3 separate regions of the Homo sapiens genome follow, and regions 1 and 3 are each linked to region 2. The links come from fine-mapping of genetic effects on gene expression. A gene starts in region 2. Each other region holds a variant in brackets. All regions are shown on one strand. Distances are between the middles of the regions. Region 1 has its middle 91 kb from the start of TNIP3. Region 2 holds the start of TNIP3 (TNFAIP3 interacting protein 3). Region 3 has its middle 55 kb from the start of TNIP3.

Region 1 (4,249 bases), 90 kb after region 2:
TTTGAAACACATGAAAAGTAACAGAGGACAAGAGCAAAATTCTGGAGCATGGTTCCAGGTAATTCTTCCATGTGCTCCCGGGTTTAACGTAATGTTAAGAGAATCGACTCCCAGCCAGCACAATGACTGATTGACAGAAGTGTGCTGTCTTTGGGCATGGATTCTTGCAGTTTGGAATGTCTCCCTGCTTCTGTTGTGTGAAATAATTGGGTTAACACAGAAGCTCACTACCTGGAAAGATTAAACATAGGGGCCTCATGTACTGTTTTAACTAAACCATTTCTTGAACATCTTTAATAGTTCCTGACAAAATAGGGTCTCTTTGACTGTTAAAATTGTTATTTTTAAAAACACTATGATACTTTTGTGTATAGATAATTATAGAGAAATTTAAAGTGACCCACAATCTCACCACCCCAAAAAATCAAATTATGTTTAAAGGAATACATAAATATATTTCAAAAATTCAAGTAGTGCTGAGAATAATAAAATGAAAATTAGAAAGTCTTTCCTCATCTCCTTCCCCCCTGAAATTACCACTATTAAGTTTCCTTTATAATGTTTTGGTTTTATGCATACAATAGAACAGTTCTGCAACTTACTTTTTGCACAAAATAACATCTTTTGGAAAGATATTTCCATATATCAACATATACACGTATAGATCTACCTCGTTAGAAAAGTCACAGAGAGAAAATCATTCACCATGTTATCATAGTTTTTATCCAAGTCTAGAGCCTGTGATAAAAGAGTTTCATACAAGTGTATCTTAGTCAACTTGAGTTGCTGTAACAAAAATAACATGAAATAGGTGATGTCAAGAACAGAAACTTATTTCTCACTCTTCTGGAGACCAGGAAGTTCAAGATGAAGATGCAAGTAACTCGGTTCCTGGTGAGGGCCTTCTTCTTGGTTTGCGAGTAGATGCCTTCTTGCTGTATCTTCACCTGGTGGGGACAGAGAAGAAGCAAACTCTCTTGTGTCTCTTCTTATAAGAGTACTAATCCCATCACAAGAGCTCCAACCTCATGGTTAATTACTTTCCAAGGGTGAAACCCTTCACCTCCAGATACCACCACTTGGGGATTAGGATTTCAATATCTGAATTTGGGGGAATTTAACAAATGTGCTGTCAATAGAAAAGTGTTTTTTCTGAAATGACCCCAGGGATCATGAGTGAGGCATAGAGAAAGTGTGCCTCACCTGCAAGATGGCCTCCTAGTTCCCTGCCTCCTAGTATTCACACTCTTGTGTAATCCCCTCCTGCATTGAACCTGGGGTGATCTATGTCACCAGTAGCATACAGTACAAGTGACAGTATGTCCCTTCTGAAACTAGGTCATTAAAGATAGTGTGGCTTCCTGCTTGCACTCTCCTTTGCCCTCTGTTACATCGCTCACTCTGGGGAAAGCTGGCTGCCACCTCGTGAGCAGCAGTCCATGTAGTGAGAAACTGAGTGCTCCTGCTCACATCCCTGTAAGTAACTTTAGAAGTGGGTCCTCCAGCCCCAGCCAAGCCTTATGATGAATGCACTCCTAGCTCACATTTGGAATGCATCCTCATGAGAGACCCTGAGACAGACAGAACCACTCAGCCAAGCTGCTTCTGAAGTTGACCACAGAGACTGTGAGAATAAATGTTTGTTGTCTTAGGCCGGGCGCAGTGGCTCATGCCTGTAATCCCAGCACTTTGGGAGGCCGAGGCAGGCGGATCACGAGGTCAGGAGATCGAGACCACCCTGGCTAACATGGTAAAACCCCATCTCTACTAAAAATACAAAAAAATTAGCAGGGCATGGTGGCAGGTGCCTGTAGTCCCAGCTACTCAGGAGG[C/G]TGAGGCAGGAGAATAGTGTGAACCCGGCAGGCGGAGGTTGCAGTGAGCCGAGATCGCGCCACTGCACTCTTAGCCTGGGCAACAGACAGAGACTCCGCCTCAAAAAAAAAAAAATTGTTGTCTTAAATCACTAAGTTTTTTATGTAATTTGTTGCATGGCAATAGATAGCTGATACAGGAAGTCAAGCAGAGGAGGGAAAGGCAGTGTAAGAATGTGTTGGTCACCTTTTTTTTTTCTTTTTCTTTTCTTTTTTTTTTTTTTTTTTTTTTTGAGACAGGCTCTTACTCTGTCACCCAGGCTGGAGTGCAGTGGCATGACCTTGGTCCACTGCAGCCTCAACCTTCTGGGCTCAAGTGATCCTCCCACCTCAGCCTCCTGAGTAGCTGGGACTACACACGCATGCCACCATGCCTGGATAATTTTTGTATTTTTTGTAGAGACGGGGATTCACTATGTTTCCCAGGCTGGTTTCAAATTCCTGAGATCAAGTGATTCACCTGCCTCAGCCTCCCAAAGTGTTGCGATTATAGGTATGAACCACCATGCCTGACATGTGTTGGTTACTTCTATGGTCAACTGATGCTCCATCCAGCAGGACCTTCTGAGGAGCCTTATGTAATGAATGTCAGAATTGTCCCTCTAGAAGATCCAAGGGGGAAGCATTTCCAGCAGCCCCATCCTTCATTTGTCAAGTATGCTCTATCAGTGTTAACTCTTCAGTACTTCCAGGTTACACGTGGGTGAGCACCAAGTGGCTTCCCATGGGCTTCCCATGCCACACTATGAGGTATATGACATAGCTCAAAGCAAGACTATCAGGTCGTGCCTGTACAAACCTGGTTGAAGCCTGCTCCAAACCATAGCTACAGGGATGGAAAAGAAGTACATCTGATGTAACCATATACATCACATTTCCCATGATCTTCCTTTTCATACATGTGTACACCACTTATTATTTTCAACATAGCAATTTCCTCTTGGAGTTTTAAAAAATATTGAAATTGAGTACATTCACTATAATTAACTTCTTACTTCATGTGATAAGTCATGTTTTATTGTTAATGTGTCTATTGCTTAATTCTATATGAATTTATAGTGCTCTTGAATTAAGAAAATCATTGGCCATGTGCAGTGGCTCACGCCTGTAATCCCAGCACTTTGGGAGGCCGAGGTGGGCAGATCACCTGAAGTCAGGAGTTCGAGACCAGTCTGGCCAACATGGTGAAACCCCATCTCTACTAAAAATACAAAACTTAGCCGGGTGTGGTGGCGGGTGCCTGTAATCCCAGCTATGCAGGAGGCGGAGGCAAGTGGATCACTTGAACCCGGGAAGCAGAGGTTGCAGTGAGCCAAGATCATGCCATTGTACTCCAACCTGGGCAACAAGAGTGAAACTTCATCTTAAAAAAAAAAGAAAAAGAAAAAGAAAAGAAAATTATCTTTCCTTTCAATTTGAAATTCCTTAAATTAATCAAAGATTACATATTTTAGTTGATAGTACCAAAATTAAAAACAATTTCAAATCTCCACATTGTTAATCCACATCTCTCATGTCCCTTTAGAGTCTGTGATTAAGAGAAGCAAGAGAAATTGAGCACTTTGGGGAGCATTATGAACTAAGATGAATAACCACTTCCTTTTGCAAATTAGAAATTGCAGCTGAATTCAACTGTGAGGGATGTTGAAACATTGATATTTTTCTTTTTATTTGAATTTTATTTTAATTTTCTTTGGTTAGATGACTTCTCAAAATTGCCCTTCTGTTTCTTTAATGTTGACCTTAAATGCATGGTGGCATTATAGCTGCACCAGGGAAAAAAAGATACTACTCAAATGGGACTCCTTGACTTTGTGAATCTTTCTTTTCTGAAATTAGATGGAGAAATGTGTTGGCAGAAATGGTCTTTAAGAAAAAGGCAGTGACTCAACTTCTGAAGTGAAGCCAGGTTCTCAGGCTACAGGGTGCTGGGGTGGGCAGAGAGAAAACTCATTTCAGTAGAGTACAGGAAGTTACTTAATGCTGCTTATGAGTCAGAAGAGGGTAGAATCAGTTATGATTGAACTCTCTTTAGTTCCACCTAAATGCAGATAGTTTAACATGTGTATAAAACATATATGTGTGTATTTTTATTCATCTGTGTCCTATGTTTTGCTTTGATAGGAACCTCCCAACCCCCATCCCTTTTCTTCTGTTTGAGTCCAATAGTAATGAGTCACTGACACCTATTGCTTTGAAAGTAAGGACTTTCTAGGTCAGAGATTTTTTTTTCAAATATTACTATACATTTCCCTTTATTCAGTGCCTTTAGTGGGATCACATACAGAGGTCTGTATTTCAAAGAATTCTTGATTTGAGAAAAAAAGAGATAATCTATGTTCACAACACATCTGGTCTGTGCTAGGCACTTTATATAC
Region 2 (4,249 bases):
TTCTGAATGATTATATTTGCTCTTGACCTCAAGAAGGTGTTCTGGCTGAGCACCAAGAGTGACACTGAAACCCAAGTGTCAAGTATGTTGGGGCCCGTAATTGGACCTTCTTCTTTTGGGGAAGACTTCCAAGAAACTGGACCCATTCTGGGTTAGAACAGACTAACTATTAAGCATCTTTGATCTGGAAAATGCTGTGAGCCAACCCTACTTAGTGTATCTTGAGGTCATCAGCAAAGTAGGGGCACAGTAAGACTGGATTTTAGAATGGTGGTTCCCACCACAAGAGCACATCAAAGTCACCGTTAAGCTTGCTAAACATAGAGCATCCTGAACAATGGATCAGAATTTCTAGAAGAGCAGCCAGGGCACCTCTATTTCTAATACATTTCCTAGGTAATTTTGATTCATACTAAAGTTCAATATATTCCCATTCTAGGGAATAAATTATGGGTCCTCAAAAATGTCTCCTCTCTGTTTGTGATGTAGACAAAAATCCGTGATTGGCAAACATTTGTATGTCCCTGCCTTTGGGAGCCCAGATGTGGAACAATGAGACAGTGTGCTTTTTGTTTGTTTCCCCATAAACAATTTTCTCTGGAAGAAAATTATAATACATTTCACCCTTGATTTTTCTTTAATAAATAAAAATTACTGAAAATCTAGATACCAAATCTGCAAGAGGCTCTATTTGTAACTGCACGAGTACTAGTTTTTGAAATTCATAAGTAATATTCAGTTATAGGTGGGGGAGGATAGGAGGGAGGAAAAATAGAAAACATAGTGACTAGGAATGGCATGTAAGTCACAAATGTATCACCAAAGCTTTCTCTGGAGATTAATCAACATTTTGTTATAGTTCATATGTCTCAGGTTTCTATAAAATAAAGCGAAATTAATCAAATACAAAGGTTTGGGGGACCTTTTCAATTTGTATTTACTTTGCTTTACAGTTGCTAATGAAGGCATCTGATTTGCAGTAACTACAAAGATTTTCAGTCATTGATTCTAGCAAGGGCTGCTTACGGAACAGTTATTCCCTATACATAATTTCCTATAATTATTCCCTATAAAGTAGAATTTCTGTTCAAAGCATCTGGGCACTTCTTTCTCTATGATAACATCCTTACCAATGTATATTCAAGGTCTGATGCTACTAAATTAAAAACTTAAATGAATAGAAGTTTCCATTTAGTTTCCCATTATACCTTGGTTATCTGTAAAAGAAAACTAGAAAATATTTGAATTCATTCATTCAATTAGCAGTAGTCTCTGTTGCTGAACAAAATCTATGGTACCAATTGTAAATATATAAAAATATTACTACAGATACTCTATTGTTACAATATGTTCTATTTCTACCTACACCAATATAGTATTCTTTTAAGATTTTTATAGAACAAAAATCAAGAACAAAATAAGGAACCCACAGAACTGGAAGGCTGAAAGGAATTTAAGCCCCGTGGGTTAAAAGCAATGTACTGGTTACTTAGATATTTTTTTCTATGTTACATAATTTTGGTTAAAAATATAGAGCAAATCTTAGCTAAAGAAAGCAAACTAGCCATTTCTGTTCTTATTAATAAGTGCACAATTAACCACTAGAAATGCCATCAATGCTAGATGTGATCAACTCATCTCCTAGAAATATGTTCTTACCTCTTTATGCTCCGTAGAACTTTCTGCGGCAATCATTCTAGATGTGCCCTGTACAAAATGTGCCATGGAAGCTGTTTTTCCTGGAGTCTTGGAAAGCAGAAAGAAAAACAGGGGAAAAGTCTCTTAAGGTATATTTTAGGGTGAGAGCAAGTATACAAAATTTAAAAAACACACATCACCGTTAACTCATAATAGAAAATAACAGCAATAGGTTTTCATTAAAAATGAACAGAAGTGACTGTGGATAGGAATTACACAGAATAAAGTTATAAGCACTGCAACTGGGATTTTAACTTTTCTTCTCTTCCAAATAGGGATTTCCCAGGATGTCTCAAATAGGCAGGCCGTGACTAAGACCTGGGGCAGATTAGCCTTGCTATAGTATGTAAATCGTCATTCTTCCTTTACTGGCAGTTTCTCCCACTGGAGGAGGAAGTTCTCCACCACAGAAAGCCTGGGCAATCCAAGTGTTTCCTCAGTAGCCTAACTGTTATAAATTCATTGTATTTCCCAGAGCAATTAGGTAACTGTTGACTTTTTGACAGCTCGGTTTCCCTAAAGGCGAGATTTTCTGGCAATACCTTCTAAATGTGAGTGTAGCTTGGTAGAACTTAATGAGTCATACATAATTCATAATACATAATAATATAAGTGCCACTAATTCTTATAGAAATAAAAGGGAAAATAATTCATTGTAAAGAAAATGGGCATTGTTTGCAAATCTAATCTTCTATATTGGCAGAAAGGTTAAACTTGTCTCAAGTTTAAGTCTGTCTTTTCTATAAATCAAGTCCAGATTGTCTCCATGACTCATTTGAAGTGAAATCTTCTCATGGAGAATCATTTTCACTTTAATTATTTGACTGTTATCATTTTAGGAGCCTTGAGGTAATGGAGCACTACTGGGTAGTACAGATAAAAGCGTGGAAATGGCAGATACTTGGAGCTGCATAAGTGAACTGCGATGGAACAGAAGACCTCATTTTGGACTTGGAACAAAAGGAAAGAGGCAAGGAATACAAAAAAGGAAAGAATGTGTAACTAAAAAGAGAAAAGAATTTATGGTCAATCATTTAACTTCATTAACCTGCCTACGAGATATTCACATATATATAGGATAAAGCCTAAAACTCCTAAAATTCAAAAGAGAGTGATTGAGTGTCCCACATTTGGCCCTCCCATTTCTCCTGAATATCTCCCCCTACTCTCCAACTCTCCCCTGTGCTCCAACCATCCTGACTGACCTCCCTTTCCTGAAATGAGTGAGATGGTTCTACGCCCCTGAGCTCTGTGCATGCTGTTCTTGCCACCTCAGATGTCTCCTCTCTGGGCCCTCCATCCAACCTTATGACGGGGAAAACCTAAGTCAATGCCTCTCTTTCCTTCTGATCTTCTCTTGACTTCCTCTAATCAGCTAAGGAGAGCACTTCATCATGCATTACGATTACATATTTCCATGTTCTTGTGTTAATCTCTGTGTCCACGCACCCAGGCACTGAGCTGTCTGGCACACAGCAGGCATTCAACACATTTTGCTACATGAATAAATGAATGAATATCTATATAATGATTTACAAAATCGATGAACTTTTTGCTAGTTTGTGTGTGTGTGTGTGTGTGTGTGTGTGTGTGTTTACTTTCTTCTGGTTTCTTGTTATGTTTGGGTCTACGCTTGAGTGAAAGGGAGTGACGCTGCTTTAAGGCAAAATCCAAAAATACAGGTAGGAATCAAATTGTTCATTCAGGGTTCTGAAAGTAAAAAGTTATAACTCACATAAGATCTGACTTTAGGGTACAGAAGCAGCGATTTCCTGAACTGACACTTTATCAACACTAAAATCTGCTCATCAGAAAAGAAAAAGAAAACTCTATTGTAAGAATATTTTTCTTCTGAAACATACCATGCACATACACACTCCATAGTTTTATATAGTGTAAGGTTCTCTTCAGCTTTAACTTTGTATTTGTATAGGGATGTGGTAACATTGACCTAGAAAAGTGGGTGGGAAGAACATTTTCTTGCCAGGAAATACCATCCTTGGCATTGTGCCTCTTGAGTCTCCCCTGTAAAATATCCTGATGCACATACATTGTTAGGTGTGATGGCTTCTATTAAATGGAAATTCTATACCTTTGCTTCTTTCTTTACAATTCCTTTGCCTCTTCTGTTATGCAGATAAACAACAAACAGATTTTCTATTAGCTCAAGAGAGCCATATGGTTATTTATGAATAAGTAATAACTCTTCTGAAGAGCCACAAGTTTGGTTTCAGAAAAATGAGACTTTCAATATGCCATCCCTAAGAATTAATTGGGTCTTTTCTGTTACATATGCTCTGTTCACTTCACCTCCATCCCTCTCACATTGTGCCACATATTTTAAGAGTCTGGCTTTTAGTCAAGCTTTGTTTCATGAGAAGTATCACTAGCTGAAATCACTTTCAGAGAAACAGAGGTGTCATTCCATGTTTCCAAGGCTGTTGTGAAGAGTCTTCATTTCTGAAGTCACTAAAATATTATACAGAGGAAAGAAAATTAAAATTAACAAAGGGAAATGTGGTAAAGGAACAAGGACTACCAGTCACTGGTC
Region 3 (4,249 bases), 55 kb after region 2:
TTATATGGAACGCTGGAGATATTACACAATTCTGCAAATATGTTGAAGAGGAAACCAAGTGATAACCATCTGATAGAGTGACTGCAATAAGTGTCCATTTCTGAAACATGAAGGCTTAAATATTTAACTAATAAAGAAATTTGTAGTAAGGTTTTTAAAATGTCTTATATTCTTTCACTATTTCAAAAATTACCGTTAAAATGCTAATTTCCAAGCATATGCGAAATTACACATGGAGTCCTGGAGTATCAGGGAATGATAGAATCTGACACTGTGGAGAACACGCTAAGAATTATAATGCCATCATTTTACAGTAGAGGAAACAGAACTCCAGAGAAAACAAATGACTTGGCTAATTAATGACTGATCTAGGATTAAACACCAAACCATCTGACTCCTAGTCATGATCTTCCATTGTTGTTCATAACTGAAAATTATACAGAGGAAATTTTAAGTTTGAAATAAAATAAAATTAGATACTGATATATTTTAATACTAATATATTTTAAAACTAACCTACAAAATTTTTACATTACAGATACAACATCATAACACTATATTTCTTAGGCAATGTCATTGTATTATTTGAACTCTGGTAGTAAACACCCCAAAAATGGCATGTGCAAAGGGAAATCTCCAGATTTAATATTGTATAGTTTAAGATTTACAAATAATATCTTAGAGGCACTGGAAACAGACAAGATGGAAATGGTCTCAAAGACATTAATTAGTTTACTGAACATTGTATTTCCTTCCTAAATTGCCTTTTCCTAGGCTAGAATTTTACATTTGTTATTATTCTATCCAGGAAGTAAAAATATTAACCAGTGACAATCAGAAAAGTCAATATCCCAGGCATAATTATAATTTCCAATAGTTTATTTTCCTTCCTTCCTCCCTCCCTCCCTTCCTTCCTTCCTTCTTTCCTTCCTTGCTTCCTTCCTTTCTGCCTCCCTCCCTTCCTTCCTCCTTCTCCCCGTCCCTCTTCTTCTCCCTCTCCCTCTCTCTGTCTCTCTTTCTTTTGAGACGATGTCTCACTATATTACCCAAGCTAGAGTTCAGTGGCTGTTCACAGGCACCATTACAGTGCACTATAGTTCTGAACTCTTGGGCTCAAGCAATTCCCCTCCCTCAGGATCCTGAGTAGCTGGGACTCCTGGGCTCAAGCAATTCTCCTCCCTCAGCCTCTTGAGTAGCTGGGACTACAGGTGTGCACTACTTTCCCTAGCTATAGCCACATAAAATTTCTGAGAACCAAAAGATTTACAATTAAAAACCACAGAAGTGGCCAGCCATGGTGGCTCACGCCTGTAATCCTAGAACTTTGGGAGGCCGAGGCAGGTGGATCACCTGAGGTCAGGAGTTCGAGACCAGCCTGACCAAAATGGAGAAATGGTGTCTCTACTAAAAATACAAAAATTAGCTGGGTGTGGTGGTGTGCACCTGTAATCCCAGCTACTCAGGAGGCTGAGGCAGGAGAATCACTTGAACCAAGGAGGCGGAGGTTGCAGTGAGCCGAGATCACACCATTGCTCTCCAGCCTGGGCAACAAGAATGAAACTCCATTACAAACAAACAAACAAACAAACAAACAAAAAACCCATAGAAGTAAGAGTATCCAACTGGCTGAGCATCCTCTGAAGCTAAAAGCAAACACATGTCTTTGTTTCCATCTTTTGATTACTTCTCCTTTTTCCTCCCTCCTCCTCCTTTTCCTCTTTTTTAAGGAATTCCTATACTGCTAAAGAAGCAGCTGTTGCTTTCTGTTTCACT[T/G]AGCCGAAAGATGTCCTCTGTTCTTGGATGCATTTCAGCACATCAGTGAAGATCATAAGCTGTTTGATTGTTTAAGCAGAAGTTTACACAATCCATAGTTCCAAAATAACCCAACTTTGAAGGATAAACTTACTTTTGGAAGTTAACCAAGTTTTATGAGCTTTTGGACATTTCTGGTGACAGCTTTTAATATACTTGGATTTCTAAAGTCAGATTCAAGGGCAGGGTGTTCGTATTACCAGTCATACTCAAAGTTTACTCACATAGGTTTTACAGACCTTGAAAATGTTATATAAAAAATTACCAACGAATTCTTATACTATTGTTTACATTTATGTTGCTCAAGTCTATGTTATACATTGAGAGGTGTCCAAATGTAATTCACATACAATCAAATGCATGAAAACTTAAGGTAGAAAGGACTAGAAGCTGACAAGGCATATTTATTTAAATAAAATGTGTTTCTTTCTGGGTCATACAATTTACAACACATAATACCTTCCTGGAAACTGTTTCATTTCACTATCTTTACTAAATTAACATTAAATGTTAACCAGGTTCAATACATTTAGGATAAAATGTCCTCATCAGGTACTAAACCATCATGAAAATTACTATCCTTGTATCCATATATAATAAATAATAAAGATTCTATAAAGTAATAGGCTGAAAACCATACATATGTGTACATTCACATGCTTACAGATATAAAAGTACTTATATTAATTTTTTAGAAATGACATTATACCATTTAAGAATACATGAAAAGCTTTCTTATTGATCACATAAGAGACCTACAGGTAGGCAGTCAGTTAATCAAAATATTAGTTAAAGCTGGGACTCATGAAGAATAATACATTAATACCATATTAATTTAATGTCACTGAAAATACATAGGTGAACATCATTGCTAGGCTCTGTTTTCTAAGGAGAGATCTATTAGTGGTTGTCCACATGTGTCTTCTGGCCCACAATAAATCCTTGGTGAATTCTAGTTTTGGTTTCTTTACAAGGGAGCAAAAATTTTAAGACATAAAGCAATCTGAAAACAGAATGCTTTTAGGTTTTTATGATAATTAACTACTTTTTTTTTGTATTTGCCCTCACCATCATCCAATTCAAATTTGGTAACTTAACCTTTACTAGATGTTTCCAAGATGCTAAAACTAGCTTGTACTGAAACAATGTTTTTTTTTAACCTTTTGGTACTCATGTATCATCGGCTTATATACATTTTATTTAAATATATAATGGCAAAAAAGTAAAATTGTCATAAATAGCGTGGGGGAATAAACAAAGCTGATCCTGGGTAAACGTACCACTTAACTTTTAGAGTCAGAAATAAGTGAATGTCCTTAGCTGTGAGCATTCAGCGTGCCTTAAGTGCCAGTCTGTGTGTTTTACTGAGCGAATGGACAGCAGGATTCGTTCCTGCTGTGATTTGGCTGAGTAGGGGATGAAAAAGAGCAATACGTTCAGTCAAGAGTGGGAAAATGCCTGCAGAGTCAGGAAGCTGACATAAATTGGTGACAAGTGGTGGTAGGGGCTGTGGTGAGTAAGTGAAGACATATCCTCCCCAAAGGTATTAAAATTCTGTTTAAAAAAATCAATGAGAACAAATAAAACATAATGCTCTTTAAAAATTTTTGGTTTACTGTTAGCAATTCTCATGGCCTTTTGCAGTTTCCAAAGCTTGAGATATTTGTTGCCAATATGTGGATGATAATGGACAACATTTTGAGATCCTTGCTATTATTGGTAAGAAAGAAATGTAAAGAACTATAACATTTTTAGTATAAAACCTTGGTTATGTTTTTCTAATAATATCTTTAATATTCAGTCTAAATCACTCTTAATATATAAAATAGCCAGTTTGTATGTTCAAGAAGTTTTATCCTTAAAGTTCCCTATCAGTCATTTTATCTCCATAAATATTAAAAAAGAAAAAGGAATTCACTTAGCCTAGAAACAGGAACAGTAAAGCAGATCACGTGACTATAAAACTAACCTAAATTTACAAGCACAAAGCTAAAACAGCAATAAAAGATTTCAGATAATTTCTATGCAAAATGAGGCAAATGCTCAATGTTGTTAAGAATATGATAATGATATTCAAAAAAAGGATATGTTACACATTTTAATTCATTTATTTCCTCTAGCAAATAAGATTCCTATACCCAACAGGTACTTAAGGACCTTTGATTACAGTGTGGAAGAAATTGGAGGAGAGGAAAATTACACACCACTCTCATTTACAGTAATGGCTCAAGGGAAATTGAGAACAAGAAAGAGATTTTTGGCTGCACATCGTTTGGCTAAACCAAAAGAAAGAACTACCCAACAGAGCTGTAACTATTTTTTTTTCCACTTCATATTTCTGAGAAAGGTGTCAAATCAGGGGACTTTCATCACCTATTTCCTTCTAAGAAGTCTTTTTGTTTTATAGCAGTAAAGTTTTTTGCCACCACAGGTTCTC

The links. PIP is the estimated chance that this variant, and not a neighbour inherited with it, causes the effect. A credible set is the group of variants that fine-mapping cannot tell apart.
Region 1: its variant is the best candidate, but not a certain one, in a credible set for the expression of TNIP3 in whole blood (TOPMed, PIP 0.52).
Region 3: its variant is the best candidate, but not a certain one, in a credible set for the expression of TNIP3 in blood mononuclear cells (TOPMed, PIP 0.57).

Annotation. Positions count from the first base shown.
Region 1 is chr4:121,252,733-121,256,981 of GRCh38, forward strand. No RefSeq gene overlaps it. Among named protein-coding and RNA genes, the nearest start is that of TNIP3, 91 kb to the left of the region's middle. The variant C/G (reference allele first, on the strand shown) is at 1,833.
Region 2 is chr4:121,162,401-121,166,649 of GRCh38, forward strand. It overlaps TNIP3 (TNFAIP3 interacting protein 3), which reads right to left and starts at 1,921. Exons shown (of 11, transcript NM_024873.6): 1 at 1,660-1,921. The coding sequence starts at 1,725.
Region 3 is chr4:121,217,632-121,221,880 of GRCh38, forward strand. It overlaps a transcript of TNIP3 not described here. Among named protein-coding and RNA genes, the nearest start is that of TNIP3, 55 kb to the left of the region's middle. The variant T/G (reference allele first, on the strand shown) is at 1,774.